4 linked regions of the Homo sapiens genome follow. The protein of the gene in region 1 interacts with the protein of each later gene in a pairwise test. Each region holds a gene or a part of one and is shown in the gene's direction. Other genes may lie near its edges. The genes, in order: BEX3, TSNAX, CTNNBL1 and ING5.

Region 1 (8,032 bases):
CATTCTTTGGCTTGAAGCTGCATCACTGTAATCTCTGCCTCTGTCCTTGGATTGGTTTTCCTCTTCTTATAAGGACACCAGTCATATTGTATTAGGGCCCAGCTTAATGACATCACCTTAATTTGAATATATTTTCAAAGGCTCTGTTTCCAAACAAGGTCACAATCAGAGGTTATAAGGCTTAGGACTTCAATATATATCTTGGGGGGATACAATTCAACCCATAGCACATATGGTATAAATATATTTCTCCTGTTTCTTCTCTGTCTTTTAAATTTGTGTGAAAAATCAGGTTCCCTGGCCAGGCGCGGTGGCTCACGCCTGTAATCCCAGCACTCTGGGAGGCCAAGGCGGGTGGATCACAAGATCAGGAGATCGAGACCATCCTGGCTAACACGGTGAAACCCCGTCTCTACTAAAAAATATAAAAAATTAGCCGGGCATGGTGGCAGGCGCCTGTAGTCCTAGCTACTCGGGAGGCTGAGGCAGGAGAATGGTGTGAACCCAGGAGGCGGAGGTGGCAGTGAGCTGAGATTGTGCCACTGCACTCCAGCCTGGGCGACAGAGCGAGACTCCGTCTCAAAAAAAAAAAAAAAATCAGGTTCCCCTTGTTGCACTGTATACTAGCAATGGAACTTACATGGGAGTAGTAACAGTGAAATAAGATAAAGTGACTTCATGAACGTTTATGCATGAGTTTTGTTACTCCTCAAAGTTCATCCCTAAGTCCTGGGAAAAGTAAGAAAGGTGCTCACCTCAGCCTAAAGCTAGAAGGGCCAAAGGAGTTCTCTTGGCCTACACATAGTCCAGCTAATGTCATCAGTTTAGGAGACTGCATAGGGCAGAGCTCCTTTTCCACCAGAGTCCTAAACAACAGGAAAGAGTGGCCACGGGTCTCCGGTGTCTCAAGATATTATCTGCAATCCATGAAATAAAGAAAAGAATACCCCTCAGTTCCCCAATAGATAATGAGGTGCTGAATATTTGCTGCTTTCACGTTCAGACATCTTAGTCTCATAGCCCTTTTATTTTTTCAGACTAGATCTCTTGAATTAAATATATTATCTCCCAAATCATTGAAACTCTTACAGTGACACCCTTAAAATTTCATCAGATTCATTCCACATTTTGGAAATCTTGGCATCAAAGTTATAATGGCCATAGCTTAGAGGAAAGCTGGAGTAGGCATAATTTCCTATATTCTTAACACCTAGTTTCAGTCTGTAATCGGTGCTTAAATTTAGAGAGAAAGAGAGAATCACAATAAAAAAGTATCAGTAAAGCATCAGAGAGGTACATAGAGAACCTATTCTAGGCAGGAACAGAGATACTCATACCCACAGGGCCCACTAGGGCTCAGACTACCTTCTCCCAAGCCTAGCATTTACACAGGAGAGATAATGAGAGGAAAACAGGACAATAACCACAGTCCAACCAGGTGCATTTCAGACAAGTACATGTGAGCCATGTCATGGCAATACACATAAAGATTTCAGCAAAAACGAGCTTCCACTGATGGGATACTAATACAATAGAGGGATCTTCACTAGTTGAGGTCAAATCATGAAACAGTTTTATTTTTCCAATAGCTGTATCAGCAGTGTTCTTTCTATCACTCCCTCCCCCACTTCGCATGGGGCAATGGGCTTCTTTAACTACATTTCTGTCCAGTTCTCCAACTTTTCAGTCACTACTGCTTATTAAAATAGTTTCAGTCAGACTAAAGATTTGGTTCTATTCATTTTCAAATGCCAATCTCACTTTTCATTCTGAGTCCTCCTGGTGCCTCCAGGGCAGATTAGAATTGAGGCTCCTGGGCTTGAAACATGTGTAAAACGTGTGTGTGGGGATAAGAACCATCTAATCAGTTCACCTTCTCTCTGCCTTTTGGGACACATGAATCCCAAATGCAGAATATAGTGTCCTTCTAACTTGGCCTTGAAAAAATTTGTTTTTGTTCTCAACAGTGTGCTGTCTATTTCCAACTCCTCAGAAAACTTCAGGGTCAAGAAAACATCTCAATCAACTCCTATTCACAACATTTTAGTAAAGATAACAGCATTTCCCGGATAATTTTCACCTATCTTTAAAACATTACTTTATTACAACTAATCAATATAGCATAATATCCAATCTGGATGTTACAAACAAATGTCTGTTTTCATCCAAGGAAATTTGATGGTTTTGAACACAGGATTTATCCAAGATGGGTGAAAAGGAAAACAGCAAAGCATTTAGCCACCAAAAGAAATAAAAATCCACTTGCTAAACTTCATATCCAATAGTCACATCACAGTGGCTTCTCAGCTTTCAGGAGATTTTTTTCTAGGTAATTCTTAATTTTCATAAAAGCTTTTCCGTATTGCTCTAAATACAGTCCCCAGAATGAAAAACAACCTATTCGCCTCAGTACTGGATACATTCATTCAACAAGTATTCAGTAATCACCTACTTGGTGCAAGGAACACTATTAGTCACTGGGTACACAAAATAGAACACAGCAAGCATGTTTTGGGCCCTCATGGATTTTAAGAACAAGTGGGTCTAGCTAAGGAAAGAATCATACTCTGCTACTCTTTAAATCATGTTAGAAACCATCGAATAACAATAAAAATAATGTCAACAAAAATTGATGATTTACTAGGCTATGTAGTAAATTATTGTTATGTGTAATTCTAACAATCCTTGTTTCACAGAGGAAGCACACAGACCTTGATAAGTAATTGATCCAAAGTTGAACATCAAGTAAACAGCTGACTGAATTTGAAGCCAGACTTGTCTGATACTACTGTTCATGCTTTGAAACTGCATCATTCCAGCTGATATCATTAATATAGCAATCTGTATAAAAAGTTCTTAACTGTGAGACAGAATCCAGGAATCACTAACATTTCTTTAAAAGACAAATATTGAGTGTGATTTTATAATTTGATGTTTTGGAGCTATGTACTAATATATCCATATACCTCTAGAAGAATATATATGTAATTTTATATGGAATACATATCTCCAAAACGTCTAACTACATACACACTGGGCATATACTCTTCCTTTATTCACTGTGTCATCTGGTTTAGCAGGGTAGGAAATTCTACAGGAGTTTGGGGCCAAAACTAGAGTTAGTAAGCATTTGTCTGGCTTGTCTTGCCTCAGTGCTGCATTTAATGCTTTTGGTTCCTTATCATAAACAACAGATATCAAATATTTTTTATAACAATGCCACTTTTCTAAAGACATCTCTATTTTCTAGCTGTGATAATTTTTTTAAAAATGATTTCAAGTTGGAGAAAGGAACATTTGCACTCAGGATAAGGTTCAGTCTCAAGTTAAGTTGTTTCACACACCCCCTGCTTATTTCTAATATATTTTGAAACATTCGCACCAAAGGGTAGATGGTTTTGAAACTACTTTCTGCATAATATGTACTTAACTTCTGAGCTCATACTAAGAAGATATTTGTAGGGATGGTTTGAAAGGTTTGGAAAGGAAAGCAGGGAATAAAAGACTCCCTTTCTCTGATGACTGTGATATCAAAAACATCAAAGTTACATAAAATGGTGAAGATCTGACGACCAGACTGCTCCCTGAAGATTCACTTTACAGATCATTTCGAAAACACCAACTGTGTTCAGAAAGAGTCCCGCCTTTCAGGCGCCTGTAGTCCCAGCTACTCCGGAGGCTGAAGCAGGAGAATGGCATGAACCCTGGAGGCGGAGCTTGCAGTGAGCCGAGATCGCGCCACTGACTCCAGCCTGGGCGACAGAGCGAGACTCCGTCTCGGGGGAAAAAAAAAAAAGAAAAAGAAAGAGTCCCGCCTTTTTATATATTTTTTTCTTTTCTTTTTTTTTTTTTTGGAGACGGAGTCTCGCTCTGCCGCCTAGACTGAAGTGCAGTGGTGCGACGCGGCTCACTGCAACCTCTGCCTCCCGGGTTCAACGATTCTCCTGCCTCAGCCTCCCGAGTAGCTGGGACTACAGGCACGTGCCACCACGCCTGGCTAATTTTTTTGTATTTTTAGTAGAGACGGAGTTTCACCGTATTAGCCAGGATGGTCTCGATCTCCTGACCTCGTGATCCGCCCGCCTCGGCCTCCCAAAGTGCTGGGATTACAGGCGTGAGCCACCATGCCCGGCCAAAAATAAAATTTTAAACGAGCTAGTATGTATCAAAAGTAATGGCTTGATGTTGTGTGGAGCCCAGAAAAAATATTTTGTGTGGTACAGGTCAACATAAACAATGAGAGATTTCATTGTGCAGGATAAAGCATTTCCTTTTTTTTTTTTTTTTTTTTTTTTTTTTTTGACAGGGTCTTGCTCTGTCGCCCAGGCTGGAGTGCAGTGGTGCGATCCCGGCTCACTGCAACCTCCGCCTCCCAGGTTCAAGCGATTCTCCTGCCTCAGCCCCCCGAGTAGCTGGGATTACAGGCGCACGCCACCACGCCCAGCTAATTTTTGTATTTTTAGTAGAGATGGGGTCTCACCATGTTGGCCAGGCTGGTCTCACACTACTGGCCTCAAGTGATCCACCCGCCTCGGCCTCCCAAAGTGCTGGGATTACAGGTACGCCACCGCGCCCAACCAGCATTTCTTTCAAAATTAAAAACTTATAATTTATAATTTTCTGAAGCATGCAGATTTTTTAAGGAAATAAAAAGAAATATATACAGTCCACTCCACTTCCTTGCCCCGCTTTCTGACAAATGCCCTCCTGCCTCCCCACCTTAGCCCTCACTCTAAATTTTCTAGAAGGGTAGGAATTCAGGGGCTACGTGGGCATTGATGGCTGTGCACACGCAAGGGGTAGAAGTGGGAGTGCAGCGCAAAGCATGTTGCCAGGTAGAAAAGGAGAGAAAGCAGAAAAGGCCAAAGCCAAGGCCTGAAGTGAGAGGGGGCAGTGGTGGAGGATGATGCAGACCCTCCCTGGTAACCAGAGGAGGGCAAACTCCAACCGCAGAGCAGTGATGCCACTTGTGGGCCCTCAGATTGGAGAGGACCGAGAAGAGTGACAGGGCTGTGCGCTCTGGGGCACCTCATGCAGACGGGAGTAGGGAGGCTGTTTTTTGCGCGTGCATATGGCGGTGGCGGGTGGGGGGAAGGGGGAGATCCTGCTGCACTGGCCGCCCAAGTTGGGGGGCGAGCTCGGTGGTGACGCGCGGCCCTCACGTGACCCAGAGCTGCAGAGCGACGCAGCCTTCGGTGCAGTCGTCACTCGCGTCTGGCTACCAGCTCCCCGCTGCCCTGAGCTCGGCGGGCTGGCATTCGGCCCGGGGAAAAGCGGAGCAGGTAAGGGCTCCGGGGCCCGTGAGCCCCGGCCATGCCAGCAGCGGCTGACCGACCTCGGCGACAGGCGCAGAACAGCGCAGGGGGTCCCCGCCAGCTTTCTCCACACCCCAACATGCTTGGGAACACAGAGGCCCCCAGGGATGGGGAAGCAGGGGCGGCTGGGTTTCCAGGGGCGGCAGAGCCACCAAGAGCGATGGAAACCCACCCCCGAGTCCCTGCAGGAAAACAGCGAACACCGCGGGGGGCTGGGCGTTCGAGGGTGGGGTGGGGGTGGGGGGCGGGAGACGCGGGGCGCTGGCAGCGAGGGGAGCCCGGGCTCGGAGCACGGAAAGGGCCGGGCGGCGGCGGGTCTTCGCTAGCGTTCCGCTGCAGCAGCCCCCACCCCCCACAACCCCCACCCCGGCTCGACTGCAGGTCTGCGAGGCTAAGTGTCTCCGCGGCGCACCTCGCGGCGAGAATCCGGAGGAGAAGGAGACTGCAAGGATAGGCCCAGGTCGGTGCGAGGGACGGTGGTGGGGCGGGGGTCGGAACGTAAGGAAAGCCCAGTCTGAGACCCCAACCCCCTCCACCCCATCCCCCACTCCTATACCGGTCCTCCATTTTGGTGCCTGCAAAGCTCTGGGAAAGAATCCCGGGAAACGAAAAATGGTGGGTTTGGGGGAAGGGAGGTAAGGGGAGAAAGCTGGAGGGAGGGGCTTTAATTGGAGGCCCCGTAGAGGACGCGCGGAACTTCTAAGGTGGGAAAAAACGAAATTAAAAAATCCTTTGATATCAGGGCTCTGAATCCTGCTGGTCAGAGCACCAAGCATTCAGTCTCTCTCCTTGCCTTTGTCTTACTTGTGTTCAAAGAAAAACAACCAGAAAAAAAAAATCTCATCATGGCAAATATTCACCAGGAAAACGAAGAGATGGAGCAGCCTATGCAGAATGGAGAGGAAGACCGCCCTTTGGGAGGAGGTGAAGGCCACCAGCCTGCAGGAAATCGACGGGGACAGGCTCGCCGACTTGCCCCTAATTTTCGATGGGCCATACCCAATAGGCAGATCAATGATGGGATGGGTGGAGATGGAGATGATATGGAAATATTCATGGAGGAGATGAGAGAAATCAGAAGAAAACTTAGGGAGCTGCAGTTGAGGAATTGTCTGCGTATCCTTATGGGGGAGCTCTCTAATCACCATGACCATCATGATGAATTTTGCCTTATGCCTTGACTCCTGCCATTTATCATGAGATTAATACTGTGATTCCCGCTGTTTTCTTTTTCCTTGCATTTTCCTAATATGCCTTTACTGATCCGTTTGCTGTGAACCCTATGTTATTTCCATGTGTCAAGTGGGTCTTGTGTTGCCAGCTTCTATTTGAAGATTGCCTTTGCACTCAGTGTAAGTTTCTGTCAGCAGTAGTTTCACCCATTTGCATGGAAAAATTTAAAGCTAATAAAGCAATTTAAAAAGCAATCTATACATTTATTGTCTCATTAAAAATGTATACTTACATATAACAGATGAACTAAAAAAAAATCTGAGATTAAATACACTAGAGTGTTAATTGGTGAACATTTCTGTGTGTTAACTAATCCCAGCACTTTGGGAGGCTAAGGTAGGCAGATCACGAGGTCAGGAGATCGAGACCATCCTGGCTAACACGGTGAAACCCTGTCTCTACTGAAAAAAAAATACAAAAAATTAGCCGGTCGTGATGGCACACGCCTGTAATCCCAGCTACTCGGGAGGCTGAGGCAGGAGAATGGCTTGAACCCGGAAGGCGGAGGTTGCAGTGAGCCGAGATCACGCCACTGCACTCCAGCCTGGACGACAGAGCCAGACAGTCTCAAAAAAAAAAAAGTAATATGTGACATTTTTTTCCTTTTATTATCTGGAGTTTGAGAAGCAATGAAAATTATTTTTCAATGAGATTATGAATGTAGTGCAGATACGTAACAATACTGGCTCAACAAATTTGAAGAGTAAACTCTAACTATCCTTCAGTCTTAACTGGAATAATAAACCTTCCCTTTATTACAGATGCATTCCTTTAAAGAGCCCGTTTTCTGCTCTGTGAAATGGGGAACAATGCTTGTCTTACAGGGCTGCTGAGTGGAACTGATGAAATGTGGAACTGTGTTGGGCTGGCTTCTGTCCCCAACTCCCCAACATTTAACAGGACCGGGACCCCCATCAGGTACTTAGGACTGGAGGAATTATCACTCATGTTTACAAGTCCAGACAGTGAAAATAGGTGGGTTCCCCCATATCATTCTTGTTATTTGCAATCCTCCTGCTCCCCTGATTACTGCCTTCTTGATTGGCCACACTTTCCCTTCTGCTGGATCCTATTTCTGTTGCTGTTGATGAGGTGCTAGGGTCTTCAAGGTAACAAGCCCCACTGATTTCTCTGGAGTCTCTGGTGAGCCAAATCCCCCTTTGACCTCTATAGAATTGTGGAGAATGTCTTTATAACTTGAGAGTTATATTTATCCTGGTGAGTACAACTCTTGTGGTTCTTGGGATTACATTGGTTCTTAGAAAAATAGCCCTTTCTGGTTTTCTTTCATAACTCCTTCAAATAACTCAGACAAGAGTGCACTGCGGCCTAACTGAGAAAATGCATCTGAGTGTGCCCTGAATTGCATTACTGCAAACCTCCACAATACAAACAGGCTGAAGGCTTTATTTGTGCCTGTGTTTCTATCCTTGATACGGATTTTCTCAAAGGAGACTCTTGGCAGGCCTGCCCACCCAGTTTAA
Region 2 (8,176 bases), on another chromosome or scaffold:
ATGCGTGAAAATTTTAATATTAGATAAATGTTAAAATCTGCATAACCTATTTTCTCGTTCATTTTTGAACTCATGGCAGTCTGGCTTTCTGCCTCACAATTATTGAAATGCCCTTGTTACCTTCATATTATTAAGTCTCTGTTTTCTTATTTTACATTTTTGTAGCATATGATACTGTTGACTACTTAATTCTTTTTCGAAAGTTCCTGTTTCAGTTTTGTGACTTTTGTTTACATTTTTTTCTCTAGGACTTTACTATTTTATTTTTCTACGCAGGCTTTGTATATTTGATAGACTTCGTGATTGCAAGTAAAAGAAACTAACTTAAACTAGTCTAAGCAGAACGGGGAAATTAATTATAAAAAAAGCCACTATCAACTAGCAGATTTCTTATTTTATGCACTATTTTCTATTACAGTTGTAATCATATTATTCATACAGTTTTGACTAGTAAACTGAGAAAATAGCAGACTTCAGAAAAATTAGAACTTCCCAAGATTCAGCACTATCTTATGAGCAGCTGAGGATCTCCATCTTCCATCTTTGCTTCTTTGTTTGCTTCATAATTCATTTGACCTGATTCCTTTGCCTGTTTCACGAGAGGTAGAATAGTATCTACCCTACAACTCCCCAGCTTACGTGTTTTAGTCCAGCTTCTGAAGACGGATTGTTGTTACAAATTCCAGATGTCTCCAGAAGGGTAGCTGTGATTGGTTTTATACTATATGTCACAGAAAGAATGTAGGGAAGATCACATATAATTTATTAGCTTTTCGTTATTGAAGATATTATTGCCCGGGCATGGTGGCTCACACCTGTATGGGCAACATGGCAAAACCCCATCTCTACAAAAAATACAAAAAACTAGCTGGAGATGGTGGTATGCAAGTGTAGTCCCAGCTGCTCAGGAGACTGAGGCAGGAGGATTGATTGAGCCCAGGTGGTCAAGGCTGCAGTGAGCCATGATTGTGCCACTGTACCCCAGCCTGGGCGACAGAATGAGACCCTGTCTCAAAAAAAAAAAAAAAAAAGATACTGAAGTATTCCGTTCAGTAACATGAAACTTTTAAGATAATTCTCACATTTTAATTTTTACTTCATTAAATGGAATCTAATTTGCCATACATAGATTTATTGAAATATGGCACTGTTAACATTTTCTTTTTCTTACCTGACTGTGTAAAATTAGTTTTTGCTTGTTTTCTCATATCATTCTTAGATAGCTTGTACATAATAAGGCTTGTATTATCGAAAGAAGCAATACTGTTCTTATTAATTATGGACACTTTTTTTTAGTACTTATTACAATTCTAAAACAATTGCCATCAGTATTCAGCAGTAATATAAATAACAAAAGCAATAATATAAAGAAAAACATACAGATTGAGTATCCTAAATGCTTGGGACTGGAAGTGTTTTGGATTTCGGATTTTGGAATACTTGCAGATAATGTATGGGTTGAGCATCCCTTATCTGGAAATCTGAAATCTGAAGTGCTCTTGTGAGCATTTCCTTAGAGTGTCTTGTTGCTAAGAAAGTTTTGGATTTTGGAGCATTTTGGATTTCGGATTTTCAGATTAGGGATGCTCAACCTGTAATAGGAATATGACAGGAGACCTTAATATTTTAGAAAAATCTGCGTTACTGTGTGAAGTCATCTTTTAAATATTTTTCCACCAAAAAATAAATGCTCATTATAGTAAACTTAGAAAATGGTAGTCTTTAGAAAAATTACGAATGGCAGAAAGGTAAAGCTACTTAATGAGACAAATCAGTCTGTAGTACCCAAAGATAGCCTCTATCAACTAGCAGATTTCTTATTTTGTGCACTGTTTTTTATCATAGTTGTGATCATACTGTTCATACAGTTTTGACTAGTAAACTGAGAAAATAATAGACTTCAGAAAAATAAGAAACTTAAGAAAAAAATAGAAACTTTAGAAATATTAGAAACTTCAGGAAAGTAAAGATACTTCATGAAAGAGGCTGGATGTGGAGGCTCATGCCTGTAATCCCAGCACTTTGGGAGGCCAAGGCAGGCAGATCACTTGAGGTCAGGAGTTTGAGACCAGCCTGGCCAACATGGCGAAACCCTGTCTCTACTGAAAATATAAAAATTAGCCGGGCTTGGTGGCATCCCAGCTACTCGGGAGGCTGAGGCAGGAGAATTGCTTGAACTCAGGAAGCGGAGGTTGCTTGAACTCAGAATTGTGCCACTGCAATCCAGCCTGGGTGACAGAATAGGACTCTGTCTCAAAAAAAAAAAAAAAAAAAAAAAAACTTTATGAAAGAAATGAGCCAGTCACAGTACAGCTGAAAAACTGTTGTGAGAGGACCTCATGTATTTTAACTACAAAATTATTTTAATAGACATAGATAACTCTTCTTCAGTGAGCTTCAGTAGTTTGTGTCTTTCAAGGAATTTGCCATTTCCTCTAAGTTTTGAAATTTATTGGTGCTAATTTTCATTTTGATTTCACCTTTGACCCAAGAATAATTTAAGTATGTTATTTTGTGTCCAAATATTTTGGGAGTTTTCCAGACGACTTTCTGATACTGATTTCTAATTTAATTTCATGTGGTCAGAGAACATACTTTCTATAATTTGAATCCTTTTAAATTTATGGAGCCTTAATTTTGGCCCAGGATATGGTCTATCTGGTAAATGTTGTGTGTGCACTTGAAGAGTGTGTATTCTGTTATTGTTAGGTGTAATTAAGTCAGATTGGCTGATAGTGGTGTTCGCGTCACTTATTTCCTTATGATTTTCTGTACACTCGCTCTATCAGTTATTAAGAGAGAAAGAGGGTGACCTCTCTTGACGATAATTGTAGATTTGACTTTCTCCTTGAAGTCCTATCAGTTTTTTCTTCAAGTATCTTGAAGCTCTTTTATTTGGTACATTAATATTTAGGATTGTTATGCATTTAATGAATTGACCCTTTATCATTATGATGGTATCCCTGGATATAGGCTTTGCCCAAAGTTTGATGTTAATATAGCTACTCCTGTTTCGTTTGATTGTTATTAGAACGTATATCTTTTCATCCTTTTATTTTTAATCTATTTGTGTTTATATTTAACATGGATTTCTTGTCTCTCTTGCTTTTTAAAAATCCATTCTGAAAATCTCTGCTTGTTAGTGCAGGTGTTTAGACCGTTTACATTTAATGCAGTTATTGCTATGGTTATAATTAAATCTACCATCTATTCTTCTCTCCTTCCTGCCTTATTTTGGATAATTTTTTATGATCCCATTTTATCTTATTTGTAGGCTTATTAGCTATGCCTTTTTTGTTTTGTTTTTGTAGTGATTGTTTTATGGTTCATAATATATATCTTATTGTCAACTATTCTCACTTTGTACAATACTGTGTTTACTAAAATTTGTGCATACAAGAATCTTTTCACTTTGCATGATTTTTTGGTAACAGTTACTTTGCCAGTGAAGGTCACAGTTTTGATGTGCCCAAGTTTCAGTTAACACAGTACCATGCAAAGTAAGGACTACTTATCATTTCGCGTATGGTATAAAAATCTTATACTTCCTTTTCCATTTCCCCTCTACTAGCTTGGCCTTTTGTGCTACTGTTGTGATTCATGTTATTTCTACTTTTGTTGTTTCCACAATATGTTATGATTTTTACTTTAAACAGTATGATTTAAAAATAAGAAAAATATTTATCCACATTTACCAATTTTTGTAAATGTTCATTCCTTTGTGTATAGATTCAGATTTTTATCTGGTATCATTTTCCTTTTGCCTAAAGAACTTCTTTTAATATTTTTTGTAGTGTCAATCTGCTGATGATAAATCAATTCTTTCCGGCTCTGTGAACTAAGGGGATTGTTCTGCCTGCTCACTTTGGGCAATTCTTTTTCCAGCCTTAGGTAGTTTCCTCACATGCCTGCACTGATCAGTACTCAACTGAAGACTTGAGGAGGTTGCTTCTATAAATCTCTGAAGCTCTCTGTTTATACAGCTTTCTCCTCATTGTTACTCTGCTCTGCAAATTTTAGCTGTCTCGATCCCCCAAAACTCCCAACTCCTTTTCTACTCAGGCTGACTCCCAGGCTCCACCTAAGTTTCCTGTCTCTGTACTGTCACTTGGAAGCTTTCCAGGCAATAAGATGGGGCAGTCAGAGGGTATATGTTGTTCTCCTCCCTTTCCCCAGGGATCACTGCTCCATGCTGCCTGTAGTCCAGTGTCTGTAACCATTGTTTTCTGTATTTATTTTTTCTTTTTAGTTGTTTAAGGAGGGAGGATAAATCCAGTCCACGTTACTCTGCCCTTACTGAAAGCAGACATTTATCCATATATCATATTTTTATGAACAAAATTTTTCTTATAGTAAACATACAATTTTTGTATACTTTTTTCACTTAACAGTGTGTTAATAACATTTTCATGTTCTCCATACTATGAATAGTTTTGAGTAGTTTTGAGTTAGAAGTATATGAATGCATACAATATTTAGCCCTATGTTGATAATTAGGTTATTTTAGTTTTTCACTGTTAAAGCATCTGATGTTCTAAAAGTTCCCAATATCTTGATCATAGTGCTCCTGATATGGAAGATATATTGACTGAATCAGAAATTAAATTGGATGGTGTCAGACAAAAGATATTCCAGGTAGCCCAAGAGCTATCAGGGGAAGATATGCATCAGTTCCATCGAGCCATTACTACAGGTAAGTCTAGGTTTGTTTCAGGGTAATATATATTTTAAATGGTGTGCTACATGATTAACATGTGAGTTGCATGAATTTTAAGTGACACCTGATGAAATAATAATACTGGCTTTTAAAGAACTGCAACTTTGTAGTAATATAGAAGTAATCCAAAGGCAAGTTGGCTTTATGTTTTTTTTAACAGTGTAGTGATGGTCATTGATTGATTTTAATAAAGTATTTGAGAACACAGATTTAATAGGATGAACTTTATTCTTGAGTATGTAGGATGTGTTCAGACAGGGCACATCTCAGTGGTGGCTCACGCCTGTAATCCCAGCACTTTGGAAGGCCGAGGCGGGTGGATCACCAGGTCAGGAGTTCGAGACCAGCCTGGCCAAGATGGTGAAACCCCGACTCAACTAAAAAATACAAAACTTAGCCAGGTGCGTTGGCGGGCGCCTGTAATCCCAGCTACTCCGGAGGCTGAGGCAGGAGAATCACTTGAACCCGGGAGGTGGAGGTTGCAGTGAGCCGAGATCGCACCACTGCACTCCAGCCTGGGCGTCAGCACAAGACTCCGTCTCAAAAAAAAAAAATTTTGAGGGTATACTGGATCTTGGTGGTTATCATTATTTTCAAATAAATTGAATAAATGTATAAAGTGCTTGGTTCTTTCCTCTTTCTTCTTTTTCTAATGTGGGTTCATTGATAGGACAGATACTAGATAATTCAGATACAGGTTCAGTATCCCTTATCCAAAATGCTTGGGAACAGAAGTGTTTCAGATTTTGAGTGTTGAAATATTCACAGTTTACTGCTTGAGCATCTCTAATCCAGGAACCTGAAATGCTCCAATGAGCATTTCTTTTAAGCATGACCTTTGAGCATCGTGTCAGCACTCAAAACGTTTTGGATTTTGGACCATTTCGGATTTAGGATTTTTGGATTAGGAATGCTCAATATCAGTACCCTAAGATTTGCAGGAAGACTGGGAAATGAGTTTATTTGGTATCTGCTTAATACGAATACCCAGTTTTAGCCTAAACGTTTATAATTTCAGCACTTGTTTTTTCAGAAATGTTGATATGTCTTCTAATATGGGTAAGAGAAAGTACCAGCATACATTAGTTAAAACTGAGGGTGCATTGTTGGAAACTGAAGTGTAAAACAGTTCTGTGAGGAGTCATTATAACATATTACCAAATGAAATACAGTCTGCCATCATAATTTATTAATATCAGGGGTTTATTTGATTTCTTAATAATAGCACACACAATAAAGATGACTTCATGAATTTAGTTTGTTGTAAAGTGGCACAACCTGTAAAGTGTGACAGATTTGGCTGGAGTGGGAGACAGGATCAGAAGTACTGGTGGGAAGAAGGGTGAAGTAAAAGGTAAATCAAGCTTGGCAGAAAACATGAGAATATCTTTATAATAGTAGCTGTGACCATACTACAGATAGATTCATAGCAGGAAAATATTTCAGACAGAGTAGTCCTGCTATACATAAGTTAGGTATGCGTGTGTAATCTTGAGGGCTACTGGGTGGTAGTGTTGGTGGTGGTGGGGGACCAAGTTAGGTCTCTTAGTTTCTGGAAAGTGCTTGAACTGAAGCAGCAGTACAGTCTAAATGTCTGTATTAAACAGAAATCCAATTCTACAGCTTTTCCTAAGTATCCTATTAACCTGAATGACTAAAGGCAAGAGTTTGAATAACTTCCATAATCTTTATCATTTTTTCTATCACATCATCATGTAGTATGCCTATCTTGCAAAAATTCATGACAGTTAATAAATGTAATAAAAGCTGATCACAGTAGTTCTCACTTTGGACTTCAGTCTGCTTAAAACTTGTATTTTAATAAAAATTCACATATTTTCCCCAAAATGTTGGTGCCTCATGTGTGAAAAAGTTTTTCATGTTTAGACTTCTCAATTCCTTATTAGTGCATGATTAGGCTCTACTAATTGTGACAACATCAAGTTCCCCAAATATCTGTGGGACATATGGGACATTTCAGATTTGCTGTATTTGGCCCAGTAGTTCTATTTTGTATGTCCTCATGCATCAGTGAAGTATAAAGATAAAGAGTTTAAATAAGGGCCAAGGCCATATAGATAATGATACCAAAAGCAACCTAGAAAGCTGTACATTGTCTTACAGAACAGAGAAATGGAGAGAAAAAGGTGAAAGGGAAATATTCAGTAGATTATTTCCTAATGCAGGAAGGAAGTGCTGTACTCTTGGAAAGATAGGACATTAAGAAAATGGGAATGATAGATCTTCAGATTTTCCTACTTCACTGTATCATTGAGGATTATTATAAGCACAGTGGTCTCTTTTAGGCCTTCGTTTATGATTTGTAAGTTTCCTTTGAAGATAACTTACTCATGGATTAAAATAATGAAGGATTTTCTGTATCTTTTCTGTAAAAAGTCTTTAAAATGAGATTCTTTGAATTGAAGCAATAAAGATGTTTTTTCTTAAAGTTAAGGAATAAAGCAGTCAAGTAAAGAGGTGTCTAGGACCGAAAATTTTGCTGACAGATATTTTATTTGATAAAATAAGGTTATTTATAATTGGATTAGCATTAACAATATGATGCTTATGAATAGCTTGCTGCTTGTAATTGTTAAATGCTTGTTTTGGTATTACTCCAAATAGTTGTTCTTTTGACTTGAAGATAAAACAATTCTGGCAATGAACTAAAGGAGTTCTGTGCTTTTCCTCATTAAGAATAGTGCTAATGGCACGCAGAGCATTTCCCTAAGGGATACTTGTGTGAGCTCAAACATTGAGTATCCTAATAATTGAACAACAACAAAACGTCAGGTCTGTTTTCTACACATTTCTTATCAGAGTAGATTACAGATTGTCCCAAGGGATGGTTAAACAAATGAACAAATAATTAGCTGCTTGAAATAAGTCTTTAAAAAAAAATTTGTGTCCTGTCATTTTTTTTTTCCCTCTTGTTGAAAAATTAACAGTTTGGGGGAAATGTCCTCCATTTCAAAGAAGAAATACATGTTTTTTTCTTAAGTTTAGTTTATATCACTGATAATGATAAGAATTGTCATTTTTTGAGACATTTCGGTACACAAAACTAAGTTTATATCCTAATTAATGTTTTAATTCTTTTATCCAAGAATGTGAATGATGGGTAAAGTGGATGTTTTGGGCCAGTTAAGATATGTTTTTAGCCACTATTCTTTATATTCACAATCTCATAGGTTTTTGCAATACCTCTAAATCATAGATATTTTTACCACTTCACAGGCGGGGAGATTGAGGCTCACAAGTTATGCTCAGGGTCATAAGCTAGCACGTGGTACCATTGGTTTCTTCCCACATGGATTTCATTTACCTCTTAACTTTACAACCTAACTCCTAGCAAAGGCTTTATTTTGCTTACCCCAAATACTGAGGTTTTCCTCATAAACCCAGCACACACTGTGGCCCTTTTTTCATAGCACTTCTCAACTTCTAATGTGTAATCTC
Region 3 (8,803 bases), on another chromosome or scaffold:
ACTCCCTCCTGGATGCCACTCTGAAATCATTATCGTCACAATTTCATTCTGCTTGGTGCATAGCACATAGCTCTTCTGAGCATTCCTTTTTTTGTCTTTAAAATTGAAATAGTCACATTGTTAGGATTTTGGGTGAGAAGTAAAAAAAAAATTTTTTTCTGAGACAGGATCTTGCTCTGTTGCCCAGGCTGGAGTGCAGTGGTGTGATCTTGGCTTACTGCAGCCCCAACATCATTGGCTCAAGTGATCCTCCCACCTCAGCCTCCTGAGTAGCTGGGATTCCAGGCACATGCCACCATACCCAGCTAATATTTTTATTTTTATTTTGTAGAGGCAGGGTCTTACTTTGTTTCTCAGGCTGGTTTCAAACTCCTGGCCTCAAGGGATCCTCCTGTCTTGGTCTCCCACAGTGCTGGGATTATATAGGTAGGAGGCATCACACCTGGCCTTTGGGTGAGAATTTGAAGGTATTTGAGATTGTTATGACCAGGAATTAATGAATCAATCAATCAGTAGATTAGTTGGTTCATTTATTAAATCAACAACTATTTAGTGAGTAACAATTAAGTGCCAGGTACTGTGTTAGGTTCTGAGTTTACTGTGGTAAATGATACAGCAATCTTTGCTCTTCTGGAGCTTAGAATCTGGAAGGGAAAGCAGTCCACAAATGGGTAAAAAGCAAACAAATATAAAAACAAAAACAATAAGTGTTCTGAAGATAATAATGGTCAGGAATGCTGATAGAGAATCTTGAAGGGGAGGAACTGTCTTAAATCTTGTGGTCAGGAAAGATTCCTCTGATGTGTGCAATTAAGCTGAGACCTGAAGGGTGAGCGCCCCAAGTCTCATTCCTGGGGGTTCCCAAAGAATTATTAATGGACCCTCTCATCAAGATAAAATGAAAATATCTTAATCTGGCATTCAAGTTTCTCCAAGATTAGGGTTGCCAGATAAAATAAATAATGCCCATTTAATTCTGAATTTCAGACAGAAAACATTTTTAGTATGTTATTAAATATTGCATGAGACAAATTTATAAAAAATTCATTATTTGTCTGAAATTCAGATTTAACTGGGTGTCCTGTATTTTTATTTGCTAAATCTGTTAACCCTCTTCGTGATCTTCTCCAGCCAGCCTCTCCACCTTTTCTTCCACACATTTGAAGCTCTGTCCACAAGGAAGGGTCCAATTGCCTTGTCTTTGCTCATGCTGTTCCCTCTGCCTGGGTCACCATTCTCCCACTGTATCTTCTTGGTAAACTCTTCTTTCCCTTTAAACCCCTGTCCAGATGTTACGTTCTCAGGGAAACCTCTAGCAGAGCACATTAGCCCCAGTTCAGGGTGCTCACCAAACCTGGTTCTTATAGGATTTTGCCTTATAATTCTGTGTTTTAGAACTGGTCTCTACAAAAACAGACAAGACTGATTGCCTAAAAAGGAAAGGTTATAAGGAATTCTCTCATTCTTCCTGCCCTCTCCCTTGCCCCTATCCCACTCAACTCCTTTTTCTTTCTTTTTTTTTTTTTTTTTTTTGAGAGACAAGGTCTTGCTCTGTCACCCAGGATGCAGTGGCACAATCCTGGCTCACTGCAACCTCTGCCTCCTGGGCTCAAGTGATTCTCCAGCCTCAGCCTCCTGAGTAGCCGAGACTACAGGCACGTGCCACCACATCTGGCTAAATTTTTTTTCTATTTTTTTGTAGAGACAGGGTCTCACTATGTTGCCCAGGCTGGTCTCGAACTCCTGGGCTCAAGGGATCCGCCTTGGTCTCCCAAAGCTCTGGGATTACAGACATGAGCCACCGTGCCCAGCTGCCAACTCCTTACAATATTAATATAAGACACACAGCACTTTTCTGTGCCAGGCACTGTGCCAAGTGCTTTGCATACAGCATTTCATGTAAACCCTCCATAACCTTATGAGGTAGATTTGGTTGAATCTCCACTTTGCAGGTGAGAAAATCAGGCATGTAGAGGTGAAGTTCATTGCCACTGTTTCCACATCTGTAAAATAAGACTCATATCAACATTTTCTCCATGAGGTTTTCACCCAAACTAGAATGTAGGTTTCCAGAAGGCAGGAGCTTTGTTTTATAAACTTCCATATCCTCAGAGCCCAGAATTGTGCCTAGCATTGAGTAGGCTCTCAGTAAATACTTGTTGAATGAATGAATGAATGAATGAGTCATGTTACAGATAAGGAAAGTGTAATTTAGGGACAGAGAAAGTAACTTACCCAAGGACCCATGGCTAGATATGGTGGAACTTCCACTAGAACCAGAATCAGGGTGTGTTGGGTAGATGTTTAACAACTGGCTCGGCTGGGTGCAGTGGCTCATGCCTGTAATCCCAGCACTTTGTGAGGCCAAGGCGGGGGGATTGCTTGAGCTCATGAGTTTGAGACCAGCCTGGGCAGCATGGTGAAACTCTATTTCTACAACAACAGCAACAACAACAACAACAACAAAATAAGCCAGGCATGGTGGCGCACGCCTGTAGTCCTAGCTATTTGGGAGGCTGAGGTGGGCTTCAGCCCGGGAGGGGGAGGTTGCAGTGAGCTGAGATCCCGCCACTGCACTCCAGCCTGGGTGATAGAGCCCGAGCTTGTCTCAAAAGCAAACAAAGAAACAAAAAAACCCTACAAGTAGCTCTCTGGAAAAACAACAACATTAACAACCCTGATTTGTAGCATTTGCTGATTTACATTGTACAAATACTCCTAGCATGGCTGATTTCAAGCTATCAACCTGGTGTCAATCAGCTTGCAAGTTTCCTACAAATTTAACCATGGGCTTTTGTAGACCTGTCTGTGCAAGCTGGCATCAACATACCATGAACTAGAACACAGGGGTCTGGGTCCAAAGGGTACACCCTCACCATTACTCTCTCCTGTCTTCCCAAACAAGGCACAGTCTATATTCTATTTTTTTTTTTTTTTTTTGAGACGTAGTCTTGCTCTGTCGCCAGGCTGGAGTGCAGTGGTGCCATCTTGGCTCACTACAATCTCCACCTCCCTGGTTCAAGCGATTCCCCTGCCTCAGCCTCCCAAGTAGCTGGGACTACAGGCACGTGCCACCACACCTGGCTAATTTTTTGTATTTTAGTAGAGATGGGTTTTCACCATGTGGGCCAGGAAGATCTCAATCTCCTGACCTCGTGATCTGCCCTCCTCGGCCTCCCAAAGTGCTGGGATTACAGGCGTGAGCTACCACACCCGGCCGGGCACAGTCCATATTCTTATATAAGTAGGAGGGGGAAAGACACCCAAATAGACTGAATTCAATGCAGATTGCATAGGTGATCCTTTAAAAACATAAGCCCAGTCACAAAACTACCTTGCTTAAAACTTTCCTTATGCCGTTAGCATAAAATCCAATCTCTCTCTCTTTTTTTTTTTTTTTTTTTTGAGACAGAGTCTTGCTCTGTCACCCAGGCTGGAGTGCAGTGGTGGAATCTCAGCTCACTACAGCCTCTGCCTCCTGGGTTCAAGCGATTCTCCTGCTTCAGCCTCCCAAGTAGAGGCATGTGCCACCATGCCCAGCTAATTTTTGTAATTTTTAGTAGAGACGAGGTTTCACCATGGTGGTCAGGCTGGTCTCAAACTCCTGACTTCAAGTGATCTGCCCGCCTTGGCCTCCTAAAGTGCTGAGCTTACAGGCGTGAGCCACCACGCCCGGCCACGCCTAGCCAAAATCTAATCTCTTTACCATGGCACACAAGGCCCATTATGAAACCTCTCCCTCTACCAGGCACTGTACTAGGCTTGGGGGATACAGTGGTGAACATGACACACACATGTCCTGCTTGCATAGAGCTTGCAATCCAGTAAATGAGGCTGTCAAGAAACAAATAGTCAACCATTAAGCACAAAATTACAGAATGAGATATATACGTAGTGGAGCAGGTACTTGGAAAAAGAATAATGAGGAGAGAGGTTGATTACCTGGACCAGGGTGAGTTGAAGAAGCCCTTGTAAGAAAGTGACATTTGAGACCCGAAAGATGAGAGAATTGGATGAGGTATGGTGCTGATGGCCAGGCAGAAGGGGAGAGGATTTGTCATTCTGAGGAATAAGAATAATTTCTGTATAATTGGAGCCAGTGCAGATGGGATGGGGACCAAAATTATAAATATGAAGGGCATATAAATATAATATAATACATAAATATAATTATAAATATAAAGGACAGGGGCTTATGGAAGGAGGTTTAATTTCCTTTGAAGATGGAGCCTTAAGTCCCAGGTGCATTCTGATCTTGTTTAAGATCAGATGCACTCTGAATGATTCTCTTCCAATTATGGGCAACTTTCTCCTCCAGAAACCTTTTTATATCACCTGGGTAGCAAGGGGATCATCTAGTGACCGTTAGACTTCGCATAGATGAGCAGACACAAGCCTAGAGAGGGACATGTGATCACCAATAGTTTCTCAGCCAGTAATAGTTGTACAGCCTTGGAACAAGTCACTTTTTGAGCCAGCACTATCTGATAGAAATTAATGGGAACCACAAATGAGAGCCACATGTGTAATTTAAAACTTTCTACTAACCACATTTAAGAAGTAAAGAGAAACAGGTAAAATTCATTTTATAATATATGAATTTGACCCAGTATATCCAAAATATCATTTCAACCTGTAATCAATGTAAGTCTTAGAAATCTGGTGTGTATTTTATTTACACTTATGGCACATCTCACTTCGGAGTAGCCATATCTCAAGCGCTCGGTAGCCATATGTGGCTAGTGAGTAAAGTATTGGATGGTGCAGTTGGGAGCGTCAGTTTCCTTTTCTGTGAAATGAGGATAAATCACTGGAAGCTCGTGAGAGCGCACACGAAACACCCGGCACTCCGCCCTGGACACTAGGGACGCGCAATCAAGTTTGGTTTCTTCTGGTCCCTGCTCTCCCCTCCCGCCCCTCCTCTAAGTCTCCGCCCCCTTTCCCCGCCCCCTCAGGCTCCAGGCGGAAGCAACCCTGTTCCAAATGCAGCGCGCTTTACGGCGGCGCGTCCTTTTACCGCGGTGTGGCCGGCTCGCTTGTCGCTCGCACTTTTGCCCTATTGGCTCTGCGGCTCCGCTCGCCGCACTTTACGGCAGTGTGGCTGGAGCCGCGGCTGACGGGCCCGCGGTCTGGGCGTGAGTGCAGGGAAGTGGAGTATTTGCTGGGCCGGGTACCATGGACGTGGGCGAACTTCTGAGCTACCAGGTATGAGGGGCAGGGAGGGCCGAGCGACCGCGTTCTCACCTGGGCAGGGGTCGCAGGAGCCAGAGCCCTTTCATCTCACCTCCTCTCGCCTCACTCCCGGGCCCTCTAACTTCTCATGCCACCCGGGGTCTCAGCCCCTCGTTTTACTTTGCTCTCCGAAGCCCTCCTGGGCCCTTTCGATTCATCCCTTCTCAAGACCTGAGCCCTTCACCTCCTCTTCCTCACCCTGGGGCCTGGTTCCCTGAAACTCCTCTGAAACCCCAGACTATCCTTTTTTTCACAACCATGTCCTCTCAGCTCTCATGTCCCCCCAGTCATTGAGGTGATGGTGGTGGCGGCGGTGGGAGTGCACTGGTCTCACTTGGATTTGATCTCCAGCTTCTCCACTGACTGGCTATGTGGCTTTTGGACAAGTCATTCCCCCCCTCTTTGAACCAAGTTTTTGTATCTATATAGTGGAGACACTAATAACTGCCTTAGTAGGGTTGTTTGAGGACTGTACCAACTGATATGTATGAAAGCTGGTTTTAAAGTGTGGAAAGCTGTGCTTGTGTTTACTGCGATTTGCAGGAGATGTTGGGAATTCTAGCATGGAATGAGTTTCTAGGAATCTTGCTCAGGGTCCCCCTTGCCTAGGAAACTTGTGGGGAAACTGTATGGGACCTAGAGAGCAGAAAGGGCTTGTCCAAAGTCACTCAGAAACAAGGAGCTGGAATTTGAGCTCAGGCGTACTGACTTCCACCCCAAAGTTTTTCCCCCACTTTGATTCCATAGGAGGGTCATTGCGAGGAGCAGTAGAGCTGCACTGCCGAATGTCGTAGCCACTAGCCACATAGGCTGTTGATTGCTTGAAATGTGACTAGTCTGAATTGAGAAATACTGTAAGTATAAAGACACATTTGGGTTGGAGACTAGTATGGAAAAAGTGAAATTTTTATATTGATTACATGATCGTACTGATTATATCAATTACATTGGTTATTGGTCATATTGATTAAATGATCATATTTTGGATAATGGGTGAAATAAAATATACTTAATTAATTTTTAAAATTTTATTTTATTGTTATTTAGAGACAGGATCTTGCTCTGTCGCCCATGCTGGAGTGCAGTGGCACAATCATTGCTCACAGTAGCCTTAAACTCCTAGGTCTAAGGTATCCTCCCAAGTAGCTAGGACTGCAGGCAGGCATCACTATGCTTGGCTGATTTTTAAATTTTTTGTAGAGACAGGGTCTTGCTATGTTGCCCAAGATGGTCTCAAACTCCTAGCCTCAAGCAGTCTTCCCACTTGGCCTCCCAAAGTGCTGGGATTACAGGTATGAGCCACCACACACCACACTCAGCCAATAAAATATGTTTAAAACCAATTTTAACTGCCCCTCTTGACATTTTAATGTGTTTACTAGAAAATTTAAAACAACATATATAGTTCAGCTTATATTTTTGTTAGACAGCCCTGCAGTCAAGAATAGGTGATTAAGAGCCATGAGTCTGGACCCCTAGGTTGCTGGCAGTCTCTGTTTTGCTACTAACTGGCTGCTGTAACCTTGAACAAAATACTTAATTTCTCTCTGCCTTGGTTTCTTCATCTGTAAATGGGGGACAGTGACGGTAGCTGCCTCACAGGGCTGTTGTGAAGCTGTTGAGAAATGGAAAGTCCTTAGACAATGCTTGCCAAAGAGTAAACATTCAGTAAATATTAGCAGTTATTTTCATACCACTCCCTCAGCCAAAGTACAAGAAATTGACCCTGGACGCTTAAGACATCATGGGAAAGAACAGTTCAGCAATGGGGAGCTATATAGCCAAGAGATTTTTCTTTTAAAGACAGTTTAATTGATAGTGAAAGATGAAGGGAAATAGGCAAGTTATTAAATCAGTGATTGTATGCCGGCTTGGAATTTCTAGAATGGCTAGCCCATTAAAGCTAGAAGAGTTTCATTCATTTGCTCAACAAATATATATTGAACACCTACTGTGTGCAAGGCAGTCTATCCACTGGGTATACAACACTGAATAAAAGACAAGATTCTTGCTTTTGTGGAGCATCTGGTGGGAAGTTACAAGATAATAAGTAAACAATGCATTCAGTTTGTGGTAAGTGCTGGGAAGGGAATATAGCAGAGTATGCTATAAAATTGCACTGCTTTGTATAGTAGCCACTAGGCACATGTGATTATTGAATACTTAAAATGTGACTAGTTTCGAATTTAGATCTGCTACATGTGCAAAATACACACTGGATTTCAAAGATTTAGTATGAAAATAATGTACAATATCTTTTTTTTTTTTTTTTTTTTTTTTTGAGATGGAGTTTCACTCTTGTTGCCCAGGCTGGAGTGCAATGGTGAGATCTCAGCTGACTGCAACCTCTGCCTCTTGGGTTCAAGCGATTCTCCTGCCTCAGCCTCCTGAGTAGCTGGGATTACGGGCATGCGCCACCACGCCTGGCTAATTTTTGTATTTTTAGTAGAGATGGGGTTTCTCCATGTTGGTCAGGCTGGTCTTGACTCCCAACCTCAGGTGATCTGCCAGCCTTGGCCTCCCAAAGTGCTGTGATTACAGGCGTGAGCCACTGCCCCTGGCCACGTGAAAATAATGTACAGTACCTTAACTTTTATGCTGATTACATGTTGAATAAATGATAACACTTACGATATATTGGATTAAAGAAAATATATTATTAAAATTAATGTTGCTTTTTAAAAAACTTTTAAAATGTGGCTACTAGAAAATGTAAAGTGGGCCGGGTGTGGTAGCTCATGCCTGTAATCCCAGCACTTTGGAAGGCTGAGGCGGGTGGGTCACCTGAGGTTGGGAGTTTGAGACCAGCCTGACCAACATGAAGAAACCATGTCTCTACTAAAAATATAAAAAATTAGCCGGGCGTGGTGGTGCATGCCTGTAATCCCAGCTACTTGGGAGGCTGAGGCAGGAGAATTGCTTGAACCTGGGAGGTAGAGGTTGCAGTGAGCTGAGATCATCCCATTGCACTCCAGCCTGGGCAACAAGAGCGAAACTCTCTCTCAAAGAAAAAAAAAAAGAAAGAAAATGTAAAGTTAGGTGTTTTGTTTGTGGCTTTTGTTGTATTTTTATTGGACAACACTCCTGTCGAAAATAACCCCTGGGAGTTGGGGACAGGACCTTTTACTTTATGTAATGTGGTCGAGGAAGGACACAGAGGAATGGGCATTAAAGGACTGAAGGTTGAGAGGGACCCAGTCATGTGAAGGGAGCAGAATGATGGAGGCAGCAAGAACAGCAAGTATGGACATAGGCTATTGGTAGAAGCTGGTGCAGCCTCATAGGGGACCAGAAAGAGGATCTATGTAGCTGAAACGGGAAGTGAGCAGGGGAATGGTAAGTGACAAAGCTGAAGATGTAGGCATGTGACAAGACTATGTAGGCCTTCCTTGTGGGCCACGATAAAGACCTTGACTTTGAGAGATACGGTAGATACCTTCATTCAACCCACTTGTTCATGGATGAAAGTGAACCTTAGTCTGATAAAGGGACTCACCTGAGGTTGTGGGCCAAGATGGTGGCCAGAGTTGAAACTAGAATCCTGGTCTCCTTATTATTATTTTTTAATGTT
Region 4 (5,116 bases), on another chromosome or scaffold:
CGGAGCCATCCTTTCGGTGGTAGTTGGGGAAGGCTATGCAGATTTGCTCTGTTGTGACGCGTTGGTGACGGTGCCCAGCCTGCGGTTCCCCACAGCATCGCAGGCGCTCGGAAATCCTCTCCCGTGCCTTTAGAGGAAGGAGAGGATTGCTGAGGAATGCAGGGACGCCTGTTTCTGTCCTCACACCACAGAAAGAAACCTGAGGGAAAACTGAGACGTGAGGTTCCTGATTTAAGAAGCCTGGGTTTCTTCATGGTGGGGGGCCATTTGGAATGACAGCCTCACTTCCTTCTGATGGCTACATCTGTATCTTTTCCTCCTGTGTTTAATGTTTCACTAGGGAGAGGAAATAAAGCAGAAGGAACGTGTGAAGCTCTGTGTCTCAGACGGGGCCCTCCCGTCGAGAAGCTGGTAGTCAGTGAGTGAGAACAAGAGAACAAGAACACCCTGAACAGTCCTGGTTGGGATGGTGTCCACATTCATGTTCTGCGGTTCTTGAACACACGGATGCCTCTGGGCCACCTGTCCTTTTCCGAGGGTGTGGGTGGGAGTGGATCCTCCGGGCGCAGGTGCCAGGCAGGTGCAGGCGGGCGGTCGGCCACTGCTGCTGCTCGTCCCTGCCAGTGTCTGGGCCTGAAGGGGCTCCCTCCAAGCGGTGCCTTCCTGCGGCTTAGAAGGGAAAGCGCCAGAGAGGGCAGGCTACAGTGCTTCACACCCTTCGCCACGGCTGTGAAACTGGAGATGGGTGGGTTTTGTATGTTAATTTTTTTTTTTGAGACGGAGTCTTGCTCTGTCACCCAGGCTGGAGAGCAGTGGCGTGATCTCGGCTCACTGCAAGCTCCGCCTCCCGGGTTCACGCCATTCTCCTGCCTCAGCCCCCCCGAGTAGCTGGGACTACAGGCGCCCGCCACCACGCCTGGCTAATTTTTTATATTTTTAGTAGAGACAGGGTTTCACCATGTTAACCAGGATGGTCTCGATCTCCTGACCTCACGATTTGCCCGCCTCGGCTTCCCAGAGTGCTGGGATTACAGGCGTGAGCCACCGCGCCTGGCCACCCAGCTAAGTTTGTATTTTTGTTGGAGACGGGGTTTCACCATATTGGCCAGACTGGTCTCAAACTCCTGGGGTCAAATGATCCGCCTGCGTCGGCTTCCCAGAGTGCTGGGATTACAGGTGTCAGCCACTGCGCTCAGCTGGGAGATGAATTTTCATTTAATGACTTAACTTTTTGTTAGCACAGGTTTTGTGTGTGTGTGTGTGTGTGTGTTTTGTTTTTTGTTTTGTGTTTTTGAAACGGAGTTTTGCTCTGTCACCCAGGCTGGAATGCAATGGCACCATCTTGGCTCACTGCAACCTCTGCTTCCTGGGTTCAAGTGATTCTCTTGCCTTAGCCTCCCGAGCAGCTGGGATTATAGGCGTCCACCACCACGCCCAGCTAATTTTTGTATTTTTAGTAGAAATGGGGTTTCACCATGTGTGGCCAGGCTGGTCTCGAACTCCTGACCTGAAGTGATCCACCCGCCTCGACCTCCCAAAGTGCTGGGATGACAGGCATGAGCCACCGCACCCGGCCAACACAGATGTTTATTGATCGTGGAGGATACATTGTGGAAAATGTTTTTCTCTCTTTTACCATTTTTGGGAAGAGGGATAGGTAAGTGCAGGGAGTTTGTGCTGAAACAGCGCCTGGCAATTTTTCAGAAATGAATTTGATATTGCGCTCCACCTTTGAGCTGTTCACACCTGTGGCTACCCCTGGAAAGCGCTGGGGTTGTTGATGCTTTTGGCTGCCCGGCTTCCTGAGGTCTCGCTGCTTTTTGGGGAAAGATGACTGGCTTCCCTGTGGGACGCTTTTGTCTGACACGTGATGATGTGGTCCTGCCTGCCACTGTGCACCATCCCAGGTATTGAATTTTGACCTTTTCTTTTCAAGTTTCTGTGCTTAGTGTTTTTAATGTTTACTTTTGCCACTTACAATAATATCACCAAAATAATATGCATAGAGTTTTGGAAGAAACATAGAAAACATGAGCAGAATGAGACAATTCCTTGGGCTGTAGTTTGGACCCAACTGAATCCTGAGTGCTCTGTGGCTGACGCTGTCTACCCGTGGGAGAGACACACTCAGGAGTGGCCGTTTGGCCAGAAAAGAAGGTCATGGCCCCTGGCCTGGCCCCCGCCCTGCAGGGACACAGAAGCCACACCATTTGCACCATCCACGCCTTGCTCCAGAAGGCCTGGCCGCCTTCTCCCTGGGGGTGATTCAAGGATTTGGTCTCGGACCAGACCCCCCTCCACAGCTGCCCGGCCCCAGACCCATCTCTTGGATTGAGGGTGTGTGGGCTGGAACCAGTGGGTCACTGTGGCAGCTTCATCTGAGCCGAAGGTGTGGGTCCTCTGTGGCTGTGCGATTGACCTCGATGGGAAGGAGCGTTCTACCCATTTTCCTTGTTTTCAGTGCTGCGGTATCAGTCAGTGATCTGAGGAAATCCTGTAGGGGAAGGCAGGCTGCAGTGAAAACAGGAGCTGGTGAAACCGAGCCCTCTGCATCTGCGAATGTGCCCTAGGTGCTGCTGCTGGGGACATGGATGCCAAGCGGAGGCCTGCGTGGCCTCCTGAGCAGCAGCTGACCGCCCGTCTCATGCTGGACGGGACCCCTGGGCGGGTGGACATGAGACCACTGTTGGCCAGGGACGCCGTGCGGAGGCCTACGTGGCTGCCTGAGCAGCAGCTGACCGCCCGTCTCACTGTTGGCCAGGGCTTTGTGGCGTGGGTGTTTTCCAGTCTGCCTGGAGCAGCGAGAAGCAGCTGTGCAGACTGGTGGCGGTGGGAGGGTTTGCTGGGACTGATGGGGACACCGGCCAGCTTGTCTGGTGTCCAGCAGCCCTGCCGGACTTGGCCTCCTGTCCTGTCGTTGGGAGCCCTGGCTGGGGCTGCTTTGAGCAATGACGCTGGCCCAGAGCAGCTTCCCACATGACCCCAGAGCCGAGGGTCTGCCCTGTCCTAGGTTAGGTCTTCATGGTTTAGAGTAAAACCGTGAGGGATGTTAATTATGGGCATTGAAGACTTAAGGTTTTCTTAAATTTTTAGTGAGCAGTGATTGGCCTTCAATACTTGTGCTGAGAGGAATTTTAAGCCAGGGGAAGTGTAAGAAAATGTTCCCATTCAGGAGAGATTGTGTTGGAGTTTCTTTCTTCCTCTGTATGTATTTTGTGGTGTCCACCTTTAACCACGTTTCATCCAAAACGATGATGCAGCTTTAACATGAATGTTACATTTTTATTTTCAAGGAATTATTATCTATGTTCCCTTTGTAAAGGAAAGATAATGTTGTAAATCTTTTTATTAGATAATGTAAAGATGTATATCAGTATTTTTGGATCATGTTATAGATTATGGATATATTGTTTAATAAATAAAGTATTTTTTGGAACAAACAATTGAAAGTGCATCTGTATTAGCCCGTTTTCACGCTGCTGATAAAGACATACCCGAGATTGGGTAATTTGTAAAGAAAAAGAGGTTTTTTTTAAAAAAAATTTTCTTTTCTCTTTTTTTGAGACGGAGTCTTGCTCTGTCACCCAGGCTGGAGTGCAATGGCACTGCATGATTTCGGCTCACTGTAACATCTGCCTCCCGGGTTCAGGTGATTCTCCTGCCTCAGCCTCCTGAGTAGCTGGGACTACAGGCACGTGCCACCACGCCCTGCTAATTTTTGTATTTTTAGTAGAGATGGGGTTTTGCCATGTTGGCCAAGCTGGTCTTGAACTCCTGACCTCAGGTGATCTGCCTGCCTCAGCCTCCCAAAGTGTTGGGATTACAGGCGTGAGCCACCGCACCTGACAGAAAAAGAGGTCTGGTGGACCCTCAGTTCCACATGGCTGGGGAGGCCTCACAATCATGGCGGGAGACGAAAGGCTTATCTTACATGGCAGCAGACAATAGAAAATGAGAGCCAAGTGAAAGGGGTTTCCCCTTAAAAAAACCATCAGATCTCGTGAGACTTATTCACTACCACGAGAAAAGTATGGGGGAACCACCCCCAAGACTCAGCATCATTTTGGGAAACAGGTGTAAAATGTCAGTGTTGTGCCCAGAGACAGGTGTGTGAAATTGAATTCTGAAGGGGTATGCAGTGATTGGAGAGTGGTTTGCGGAGCTTGCTGGCTGGGGGTCTGGGGAGGACCCTGTGCCTTACCTTGGGTGGTTGCTCAGGAAGCTCAGTGGCCAGTGCTGGGGCTCAAGTTGACTTCCAAGGAAGACGTGTGAGAATGCTGCAGTTGCTTTCTTTTTTTTTTGTTTGAGACGGAGTCTCACTCTGTTGCCCAGGCTGGAGTGCAGTGGTGCAATCTCTGCTCACTGCAAGCTCCGCCTCCCAGGTTCACGCCATTCTCCTGCCTGTGTCCCGAGTAGCTGGGACTACAGGCGCCCACCACCATGCCCGGCTAATTGTTTGTATTTTTAGTAGTGACAGGGTTTCACCGTGTTAGCCAGGATGGTCTCGATCTCCTGACCTCGTGATCCGCCTGCCTCGGCCTCCCAAAGTGCTGGGATTACAGGCGTGAGCCACCACGCCCGGCCGCTGCAGTTGCTTTCTAAAGGAGTACTGTGCTTGCTCTGGAAGGGCAAGACTTACCGTGTTGCACTTGCCTTTTGGAAGCTGCTGGAGTCAGCTTAGGCTCTGTATTAGTCCATTCTTGTATTGCTATAAAGAACGACCTGAGACTGTGTAATTTATAAAGAAATGAGGTTTAATTGACTCACAGTTCTGCAGGCTGTACAGGAAGCGTGGTGCGGAGGCCTCAGGAAACTTACATCATGGCAGAAGGCGGAGGGGAAGCAAGCACGTTTTACCACGGCAGACCAGGAGAGAAAGGGAGCAAAGGGGAAAGGTGCCACACTTTTAAACAAGCAGGTCTCCTGAGAGTTCACTTACCTCCACAAGAACAGCAAGGGGAAATCTGCGCCCATGAGCCAGTCACCTCCTACCAGGCCCCTCCCCCAACATTGGGGATTATGGGCGGGGACACAAATCCAAACCATATCAGGCTGTTATCACAATACCACAGACTGGGAGGCTTAAGAAAAATGTCTTATATTTCTGGAGATTGGA

Evidence for each region.
Region 2: the proteins of BEX3 (region 1) and TSNAX interact in binary tests that used the Homo sapiens proteins (3 or more experiments, as listed by UniProt).
Region 3: the proteins of BEX3 (region 1) and CTNNBL1 interact in binary tests that used the Homo sapiens proteins (3 or more experiments, as listed by UniProt).
Region 4: the proteins of BEX3 (region 1) and ING5 interact in binary tests that used the Homo sapiens proteins (3 or more experiments, as listed by UniProt).

What each region holds. Positions count from the first base shown.
Region 1 is NC_000023.11:103,371,332-103,379,363, forward strand, and holds BEX3 (protein BEX3), read left to right. Parts: upstream 1-5,282; intron 5,283-5,696; 5' UTR 5,697-5,775; exon of another isoform or gene 5,776-6,131; coding exon of another isoform or gene 6,132-6,190; coding exon 6,191-6,496; 3' UTR 6,497-6,833; downstream 6,834-8,032. UniProt on the Homo sapiens protein: May be a signaling adapter molecule involved in NGFR/p75NTR-mediated apoptosis induced by NGF. Plays a role in zinc-triggered neuronal death.
Region 2 is NC_000001.11:231,537,919-231,546,094, forward strand, and holds part of TSNAX (translin-associated protein X), read left to right. Parts: intron 1-4,562; coding exon 4,563-4,693; intron 4,694-8,176.
Region 3 is NC_000020.11:37,688,948-37,697,750, forward strand, and holds the start of CTNNBL1 (beta-catenin-like protein 1), read left to right. Parts: upstream 1-5,082; 5' UTR 5,083-5,175; coding exon 5,176-5,205; intron 5,206-5,979; exon of another isoform or gene 5,980-6,086; intron 6,087-8,803. UniProt on the Homo sapiens protein: Component of the PRP19-CDC5L complex that forms an integral part of the spliceosome and is required for activating pre-mRNA splicing.
Region 4 is NC_000002.12:241,726,039-241,731,154, forward strand, and holds the end of ING5 (inhibitor of growth protein 5), read left to right. Parts: 3' UTR 1-3,440; downstream 3,441-5,116. UniProt on the Homo sapiens protein: Component of the HBO1 complex, which specifically mediates acetylation of histone H3 at 'Lys-14' (H3K14ac) and, to a lower extent, acetylation of histone H4. Component of the MOZ/MORF complex which has a histone H3 acetyltransferase activity.